2 linked regions of the Homo sapiens genome follow. The protein of the gene in region 1 interacts with the protein of each later gene in a pairwise test. Each region holds a gene or a part of one and is shown in the gene's direction. Other genes may lie near its edges.

Evidence for each region. Proteins that work in one complex are often made in the same cells at the same time.
Region 2: the proteins of DHX32 (region 1) and FAM161A interact in binary tests that used the Homo sapiens proteins (3 or more experiments, as listed by UniProt).

Annotation. Positions count from the first base shown.
Region 1 is NC_000010.11:125,877,650-125,883,478, reverse strand, and holds the start of DHX32 (putative pre-mRNA-splicing factor ATP-dependent RNA helicase DHX32), read left to right. Parts: upstream 1-2,186; 5' UTR 2,187-2,654; coding exon 2,655-2,936; intron 2,937-5,829.
Region 2 is NC_000002.12:61,833,561-61,837,992, reverse strand, and holds part of FAM161A (protein FAM161A), read left to right. Parts: exon of another isoform or gene 1-48; intron 49-1,883; coding exon 1,884-1,983; intron 1,984-4,432. UniProt on the Homo sapiens protein: Involved in ciliogenesis.

The DNA of each region.
Region 1 (5,829 bases):
GTGGCTTGGGCGTGGGTACCTCATAGAATGACAGCTGGTTCTAAAGAGGAGTGTTTCAAGCATGGGAATATCTTGGAAGTGATTCAGTATCACTTAACTGCATTATTTTAGTCATAGTGACACTGGTCACAGGGCCAGCTCAGATTCAAGGGGAGAGGAAATAGACTCTACCTCTCCATTTGGAACAGTGGCAAATAATCTGTGGCCATCTTTAATTCCACTATAACAGAGAAGTGGTTAAGGCTAATGTGTGTGGATACATTGCACAATGTGTGATGAAGGGGCCAGGTAAGTCTCAGGTCTTTAGAAAGAAGACTATTCAGAAAACTTGATTATTTCCTCAGGGTTCAAAGTGGTCAGTGCTTTATAAGTAAGAATTTACTGTAATTATAAGATTATTACACTCTTAGGGAGTATTATAAATAAGAGAAACATTTCTTTTTGGTAAAAATAATAGCTGTTCTTTTTTTAAGGTAAAACAGTTAAGAAATACTACCTAAGGCAATCATTGGTTATAATATTTAATAGCAATTTAATTTACATGTAGGCTGAGAACCCTTGGAAGGGATTCTAATCAGAACAAAAGAAAAATAGAATATAAAATTAAATTTTAACTTCTCTGAAGAGTGGAATTTTCTGATTCTTGGATACCTTCCCAGAATTAGCTTGTGCGATGATCTCAAGCTACCATGCTTCCTGGAGCTATTCTGTGGGTCTACTCTCACCTTATAGAGGCAGTGAAGAGTTCTGAAGTGAATCCATATTACAACATTTCTATTATGCCTTTGTAATTCCATTTTAATTTTGAAACACTGGCTTTTAGATGAATTTTTAAGAACTTTACTTGGGAAGAGCTATGAAGTTCTTCTGCCTCTCTGGTTACTTACCTCTAAACTAGCTTGTTCATCTGTGAATTTTAAAACTTTCTATCCTGCTCTTGCTGCCATCTTCAAAATATCCTTTATGTGTGTATCTAGTGCCTAGTTTACTCATCTAATAAGCCCTTAGAAGACACTCAGCAAATGTTTTTTGAGTGATTGACTGTTGCCCTGGAGCCTGTCTTGACCAATAGAGAGAGAGCTTTTCTTATCACTTACTAATTAGGAACTAGCTGTTGAGCACACTGGCTCCAACCATCTAAAGCAATAATTAAGGTAAACCAGGTGATCCGAAAAGTGCAGTAACTTACAAAATATCATGAACTGTATTTTATTATTCTTTTTAACTTGAGTTTTCTTTTTCATTTTTATCTGGTTAATGTGAAAAGGAGCTTATTTCCAGCAACACTAATGGAATTTTTCTTTTTAATCACTAGTAATTGGAAGGGGAAAGACCCTTCACCTGACATGTGGGGACTGAGTTATTGGTATAAATCTTGCTCTTTCTTGGGTGATTTCTCTTCTTCATTTAAATTAAAAGTTGTCCTTAATGGCCTCTTGGAGCTGACATGTTGGGCTCAAGACCCAGGAATCTCAAGAAATATGCTAGAGATTTCTGGTTTAATTAAACAAAAGACCTTATTAATAAAAGCCAGCCAGCTGGGCATGGTGGCTCACATTTGAAATCCCAGCACTTTGGGAGGCCAAGGAGGACAGACCACTTGAGCCCAGGAGTTCGAAACTAGCCTGGGCAACAAGGCAAAACTCCGTCTCTACAAAAAAATACAGAAATTAGCTGGACATAGTGGTGTACACCTGTAGTCCCAGCTACTCAGGAGGCTGAGGCAGGGGGAAAACAGCCTGGGAGGTTGAGGCTGCAGTGAGCCATGATCACGCCACTGCATCCAGCCTGGGTGACAGAGCGAGACCCTGTCTTTTTTATATATATATAAAATAAAAGCCAACCATAACTACATATGGAAGGAAATAATAAATTCATTCCCCTCACTTGGCTTTCTAAACTGACATAAGCAAAAGGAAAATGAAAAGTTTTAAAAATGTTTTTCATTAAAGTAAAGGATTTCTTAATAATAGATTTTCCTGTAGCCTGTGTTAGAGGAACACTCACCAGGTCATCACAGTTCTTTCCTTTTATAGGGTCCAGCTCCTCTTTTGACATGGGATTAGGTGACCACGTGATTGATTAGCCTCACAATCACAATCCTGTCCCTCCTGTTGCTTTCCATTCACAGTTGATCAAGACGCAGAGCCTGAGATAGAGGTCAGGCAGAGAGCACGAGGCCCAGTGCAGAATCATTTTCTGAACCAGCCAGGAAATACCGGAACCCACCAAACTTTAAACACCAGCCTAAATTATTCCTGTTCTTTTAAGCAGGCAGCAGAAATGACAGAAACCCGTTAACAGAAAAAAAAAAAATAATGCTTTTCATTTGAACTCCTGTGCATTTTCTTTTTAACTTATATGTGTTCCTAATTTTCCTTACTCTTTTTGTTTGTTTGTTTCTTAGTGTGGTTTATTGACAATCATTTACAATGCCGAAGAGTGCTGTAGTGAGCCAGCACAGTGGGTAACACAGCAACGGAGAACAGATGCAGGTTTGAGGAATTTAACTTGCTAAAACCTTGAACTGAAGTCTTAGAGATTGGAACATACGGGTTTGTATAAATAGGCTTTTAAGCCCTGTTTGCAATGGGTTACTGATAGGAGAAACTTGCTTGTGGAATGTCAGCTGCGTGAGCTCACTGTCAGACAAGATGGAAGAAGAAGGGCTGGAGTGTCCAAACTCTTCCTCTGAAAAACGCTATTTTCCTGAATCCCTGGATTCCAGCGATGGGGATGAGGAAGAGGTTTTGGCCTGTGAGGATTTGGAACTTAACCCCTTTGATGGATTGCCATATTCATCACGTTATTATAAACTTCTGAAAGAAAGAGAAGATCTTCCTATATGGAAAGAAAAATACTCCTTTATGGAGAACCTGCTTCAAAATCAAATCGTGATTGTTTCAGGAGATGCTAAATGTGGTAAGAGCGCTCAGGTGAGTAACCACTACAAAAAATAATTTGCTGTATGTGTTGATTTTTTAATTGTTATTTAATGACATGTCACAGCCTAGTGTTCTAATAATAGTGTCTAAAACAAAAAACAAAACATTATTCAGATAAAATAATTAAATCACGTACCTAATTTTATTAATTTTACTAATACTAGCTGAAAAGTTAATAATATCTATGTAGAAATTAATTGTGTTTAGGGTACCACTGAATTGTCTATAGAGCAGTATTAAAATTACTCAAATGATCCTAGTATTAAATTTACTCAAATGATCCATTGTGTATATGATATTTTAAAAGATGTGATGCGTGTTATTTCCTCAGCATGGGTATGGGGATTAACTGCTCTGTTTCAGTGCCCAGTGGTCTGAGAATCCAGATATGTGGATGTGCTTGCTGGTGAAGCTGGCTGAGCTACTGAAATCAAAAGCACAAGGAAATTCTGATTTTCCTGACTATAAGAAATAACTGAGCAACTAAATATGATCCAGGCCTGGGGCCACACACTTTGGGGTCTAAGATGGGGGAAAGAATTAGGATCATTAAGAGATAAACCTAGGGATATTAAAATATTAAAGAGTTGGAGCAGGCACAGTGGCTCACATCTGGAATCCCAGCACTTTGGGAGACCAAGGTGGACAGATCATTTGAGCCCAGGAGTTCAAGACCAGCCTGGGCAACATGGCAAAATGCCGTCTCTACAAAGAAGTAGCCGGGCATGGTGCTGCATGCCTGTCGTCCCAGCTACTTGGGAGGCTGAGGTGAGAGAATCACCTGAACCTGGGAAGTTGAGGCTGCAGTGAGCTGTGATGATGCCCCTGCATTCCAGCCTGGGCGATGTGAGTGAGAGACCTTGTCTCAGAAAAAAAACAAAAAAAACAAGGAGTTTGTTTGAGCAAAGAATGACTCATGAATTACGCAGCACTCAGAACCATTGGAGGTTAGTGAGCCCCATTCTAGCAGCAAGGGCAGTGAGCTTTTATAGGCTGAACATGAAAGTAAGACAAAAGACATTTAAATTGGTTAGAGTGGAAAGTTCCGAGTTAGGGAATAGTTGGCAGTTTCTGATTGATAAAGTCTAGTATGGTTTTACTGTTTACATTGGACTTTAGTTTGCTTATGTGGGACCTTCTAGAGCTCTGTCATTGCCTCAGCCTAATGGCCTCTCAATTAAAGTTTGTTTGTTTGTTTAACGGGATAGTGGGCCAGGTGCAGTGGTTCACACCTATAATCCCATCACTTTGGGAGGCTGAGGCAGGAGGATTGCTTGAGTCCAGCAGTTTGAGACCAGGCTGGGCAACATGGCAAGATCCCAACTTTATAAAAAATTAAAAAATTAGCTGGGCATGGTGGTGCGTGCCTGTGGTCCCAGCTACCCAAGAGGCTGAGGCAGAAGGATCACTTGAGCCCATGAGGTCAAGGCTGCAGTGAGCCATGTTCATGCCACTGTACTTCAGCCTGGGCAACAGAGCAAGACCCCGTCTCAAAAAAAAAAAAAAAAAAAAAAAAAACAAGAAAAGGCTGGGCGCTGTGGCTCATGCCTGTAATCTCAGCACTTTGGGAGGCCGAGACGGGCAGATCATGAAGTCAGGAGTTCGAGACCAGCCTGTCCAATATGGTGAAACCCTGACTCTACTAAAAAATACAAAAATTAGCTGGGCATGGTGATGCACACCTGTAGTCCCAGCTCCTTGGGAGGCTGAGGCAGGAGAATCACTTGAACCCAGGAGGTGGAGGTTGCAGTGAGCTGAGATTGTGTCACTGCACTCCAGCCTGGGTGACAGAGTAAGACTCCATCTCAAAAAAAAAAAGAAAACAAAACAAAACAAAAAAAAACACCAAGAAAAACAAGGTAGTGTAGAGAAGGAAAAAGTAATAATTTTCTCTGTCCTTCATAACTCTTATCTGAGGCTCCCTGTAACAAAAGACAAATTAACAGAAGAAAAACAGAAGTGTATTAATATGTATGCCTCATGTATACACGGGAAAACCCCAGAGAAATGAGCAAGTCTCTAGAGTAGATCTCAAAGAAAGCATTTAAATTTTGGGCTTAAATACCATCATTCTCTGAAACAAAGTAAAAAAGGTTGTGGGGAACAACCCTGTTAAGATGAGATGGCCAGGAAAAGCACCTTAAATGAAGGTGAAGTTTGTTATGAAGATGTAAGTCGATGTCTTCTTTACTTAGTCATCTCCTCCTGTTGCAGAGAGGGAGATGCCCTTATAAGCAGAGATTTCTTGTATAGGCACAAATTTATCTTTAAAAAGGTAACTTTTCAGAGCTACTCCTATGTCTACACTTTCTCAAAATGTGCAAAGGAGGCATATTTTGGGGTCACATATTCTGGTCTCCTTCAGTCATATTCTGGGGAGGTATGTCCTGAGCCCCAACATTAGATAGTTAATAAATACTTATTATTCAGTTTGTTGTTGTATTTGGACTTCAAGTTTTTGTTCAAGTGAGATCCATATTTTACTCTTAAGTTTTAAAGCAAGCAACCAGTATTTTTATCATGAAATTCATTTCTAGATTCTCGCGATGTAAGAATTAGAATAGACCATATAGTGTGAATAATAAGAAGTCCCATTTCTCATAGAGAAGTTACGAATAGATCTAGTAGAATAGACTATGCTCTAATAGAATAGAATTAGAAACTGATGGAACCCCTTCATTTTTCAGATGAATAAACTGTGGCCCAGAAGGATTTGATAATTTGTCTATCTAATGTCAGTAGCTTTCTGAATTGGAGTTAAAAGAATATTTTCTACTATAAATTGTTGCTTTCAAGTTGTTTATTATCTCTAGAGTTTACCTATTTTATTATCACTATTATTTTTTGAGACAGAGAGGCTCGTTCTGTCACCCAGGCTGGAATG
Region 2 (4,432 bases), on another chromosome or scaffold:
CATAAAAATGTTGATGTTTAAGTAGGAAACTATCTCCCTCAAAGCCAGGTAAGTAATGTGATTTATTACTTTTTAATCTGATTTCTAAATATGCATATGTGCTTTTAATTACAATGAGTATTCTTTTATAATTTAGCTTTAATCCATTGATAAAGGGAGCTTAATTTGATGAACGTGAGCATAATGTTTCTTAGAAATAGATTACTTACCCTTAGGAAGTAAACTATTAATAGCTTTTTATTTTTTATTTATTTATTTTTTTGAGACAGAGTCTCGCTCTGTCACCTAGGCTGGATCCCGAGTTCAAGCGATTCTCCTGCCTCAGCTTACAGAGTAGCTGGGATTACAGGTGCTCACCACCACGCCTAGCTAATTTTTGTATTTTTGGTAGAGATGAGGTTTTGCCATGTTGGCCAAGCTGGTCTCAAACTCCTGACCTCAGGTGATCTGCCTACCTTGGCCTCCCAAAGTGCTGGGATTACAGGCGTGAGCCACCGTGCCTGGACAATAGCTTTTTCATAACACCAACTTGTGTATAATTAAGCCTAATTATCATTTAAAAGTATAATTATTTTCCCCAATCCATTAATCTTATTTATCTTGGTAGCAATTATATCTTACATAGAGAAAATAGTGTAGTTTAATTTATTATAGGATCTTGCTCAAACAGTGAGAACACTTACGGTAAATTTATATATTTTGGTTCCTGTTTCTCTTTATGTTGTATTCCCATGCTCTTTACTTCTCCTTTGACTTGCTCCCATTGAATTAACTTTGCCACTAACCTGTAGGAGATCTTATTTAGGGGAAAAAAATAACAGCAAAGGCTGGATGCCATGGCTCACATCTGTAATCCCAACACCTCAGGAGTACAAGGCAGGAAGATTGCTTGAGCCCAGGAGTTTGAGACCAGCCTGGTAAACATAATGAGACCCCCATCTCTACAAAAAATTTAAAAAAATTAGCCAGGTGTGGTGGCATGCCCCTGTAGTTCCACCTACTCGAGAGCTAAGGTGGGAGGATCATTTGAGCCCAGGAAGTCAAAGCTGCAGTCAGCCATGATTGCACCACTGCACTCCAGCCTGGACAACAAAGTGAGAACCTGTCTCAAAATTAATAGGCCAGGCGCAATGGCTCATGCCTGTAATCCCAGCACTTTGAGAGGCCAAGACAGGCAGATCACCTGAGGTCAGGAGTTCAAGACCAGCCTGGCCAACATGGTGAAACCCTCATCTCTACTAAAAATACAGAAAATTAGCCAGGCATGGTGGTGCACACCTGTAATCTCAGCTATTCGGGAAGCTGAGGCACGAGAATTGCATGAACCCAGGAGGTAGAAGTTGCAGTGAGCTGAGATTGTGCCACCGCACCAGCCTGAGCAACAGAATGAGACTCCATCTCAAAACAAAAGTAAATAACAACAACAATAAAATAATAATAAAAAATAAGAGCAAAGTCTTGTTTTCAGGAGAAATTCCTTACAGAGAAGATAGCTAATTTGTTCCAAAATTTTCTTGGTTTTATACACTTATAAATGAGACAAGAGGACTTTCATTCATCTTTTCAGGGCAGTTTGAAGTCCCTTAAAATATTTATGCCTTGAGGATTTCAGAAATTAAAGTGTCCAGACTATTCCTAGAGCATAATATGTGTGATCTCAGAACCTAGGATTTTATTCTGCATTCCATGAGAATTAACCGGTATAGAAGAGGAATCGAGGTAAACTGTGAACTGTGCTTATAATTTCTGATTTGTCAGCTAAGCTAAATGTTATTTCTTTTTTTTCATTGACTTTGTACAAGTTGATAAGTTAAATGTTACATATGTAAGTTCTTATTTCTTAGATGATCTTTTAAAATTCCATTGCTTTTCTTTAATTTTAGAAAGAGCGAAAAGGAAAGGATGAGAGAATACCAACGAGAACTAGAAGAAAGAGAAGAAAAATTAAAAAAGAGGCCACTGCTATTTGAAAGAGTTGCTCAGGTTGTGTTTATTGGAATTTAAGAGCTATCGTCAGTTTTTTTTTTTTTTTTTACAGCTTTAGCTCCTAAATTTACAGTCCATTTTTCTTATGTGTTATATAACTGTTGAGATACATTATTGTTGTTTGTGTTGGCTTCATCATATCAGCCAATGAGTAATTTTGCTTAAATCCGAGCATTTAGCCAGGTGTGGTGGTGTGCACCTGTAGTCCCAGCTACTTGGGAGGCTGAGGTGGGCAGATTGCTTGAGCCCAAGAGTTTTGGTCCAACCTGTGCAACGTAGCAAGACCTCATCTCAAAAAAATAATCTGAACATTGAATCTTTTTGATGAAGCACATAAGTTTGATAAATAACATGCCAATCCAGTAGTTCGTAAAATAATTTTGCAAGCTGTTTTCTAATGGCTGGTCTTTTTTCAGTACAAACTTGGTTAGATATTAAGATGAGGCTTCATGATATCACTTGGAGGTCTTTGAAGAATTAAAAAAATGAAACAAAATGGCTAATTGAATCAGAGTTATTTCTGCTAGTTTTTTTTTTTAAGTGAGTCTGTAATTCAATCTTCTCTGCAATTACTAAAAGAACTTCCTTTCTATACGAAAAACAAACTAGTCTTACGGACAGTGGACCCTGATTTTACTAAGTTTATGCCCGGTTTTACAACCTTTCCCTTAAGGGAAATTTGTCAATTTTAGGTCATCTTCTCCTTTGTCCCATAGGGGAGGCATCTGTATGGGTGACATGGCTTAACAATTGACAAAATCACTGGAGGTTACAGGTTCTAAATTGTGAATTTGAAGCTGTTATAATTGGACAATAGACAGTTGGAGAATTTACCTGTAACAGATGAGCATAGTTACAGAACTGTACTTGCCAGTGACTCATTGAGGACAGTGGACATGTATTGTGGGTGAATCTGCACATTACAGTCTCTCAAAGTTACGTAATCTTTTTGCTCACTGATCTAGATATAATTTTATATAATGCCTTTCATTTTAAGTGATGGATTTTTTTAACATCTTTATTTCAACTTTAGGGGGAAAAATCATTTTAAGCTGTTCTACATTATAATCATAAAGTGATTGGCTTTTGGCTCAAAGACATTATCTCCAGCTCTGAACTGCAAGTTTTTTGTTTTTGCTCTTTACACTGCTTCTGGGTTTTTCTTATTTATTTATTTATTTATTTTTTCAACTTTTATTTTAAATTCAAGGAGTATATGCGCAGGTTTGTTACAAGGGTATGCCAGGCGCCGTGGCTCACACCTGTAATCCCAGCCAGCATTTTGGGAGGCCGAAGCAGGTGGATCACCTAAGGTCAGTGGTTCGAGACCAGCCTGGCCAACATGGTGAAACCTTGTCTCTACTAAAAATACAAAAATTAGCCGGGCATGGTTTTGCGTGCCTGTAGTCCCAACTACTTGGGAGGCTGAGGCAGGAGAATTGCTTGAACTTGGGAGGCGGAGGTTGTAGTGAGCTGAGATTGCGTCATTGCACTCCAGCCTGAGCAACAAGACCAAAATTCTATCTCAAAAAAAAAAAAAAGGGTATATTGTGTGAGCTGGGGTTTGGGGTATGATTGAACTCATCACCCAGGTAATGAGCATAGTACCCAATAGGTAGGTTTTCAACCCTTGCCCTCCTCCCTCCACTCTCCCTCTTATATTCTCCAGTGTCTGTTGTTCTCATCTTTATTTCCATGTGTACCCAGTGTTTAGTTCCCACTTGTAAGTGAGAACATATGATGTTTGGTTTTCCGTTTCTGCTTTAGTTTGCTTAGGATAATGGCTTCCAGCTGTATCCATATTGTTGCAAAGGACATGATTTCATTCTTTTTTATGGCTGTGTAGTATTCCATGGTGTATGTGTAACATATTTTCTGTATCCAATCCACTGCTGATGGGCTGGGTTGTTACCATGTCTTTGCTGTTGTGAATAGCATCAGCACTTGTTATTGTCTGTCTGATTTTTTTAGAAAAATATTTTTAGAGACAGGGTTTCACTCTGTTGCCCAGGCCAGTGCAGTAGTACAATCATAGCTCACTGGAACCTTGAACTCCTGGGCTCAGATGATCCCCAGTATGAGCATCCCAAGTAGCTGAGACAAAGGCCCACACCATCATGCCCAGCTAATTTTATTTTTTGTAGAGACTGGGTCTCGCTGTATGGCCCAGGCTGGTCGTGAACTCCTGGCCTCAAGTGATCCTCCCACCTCCACCTCCCAAGTTGATGGGATTACAGGCATGAGCCACTGCACCTAGCTTTTGTCTGTCTTTTTGTTATAGTCTTCCTAGTGGGTACAAAGTGGTATTTTATTATTCAGTAACATTCTTTCAACTGTTCTTTTATCTTTTTCATTACAGACTCTATCTACTAGCTTATTGATATGGTAGGTGAGGATTTAGCTGTTTTAACACGTCCTCTCGGAAGCACACTTACCTACCCTTTCA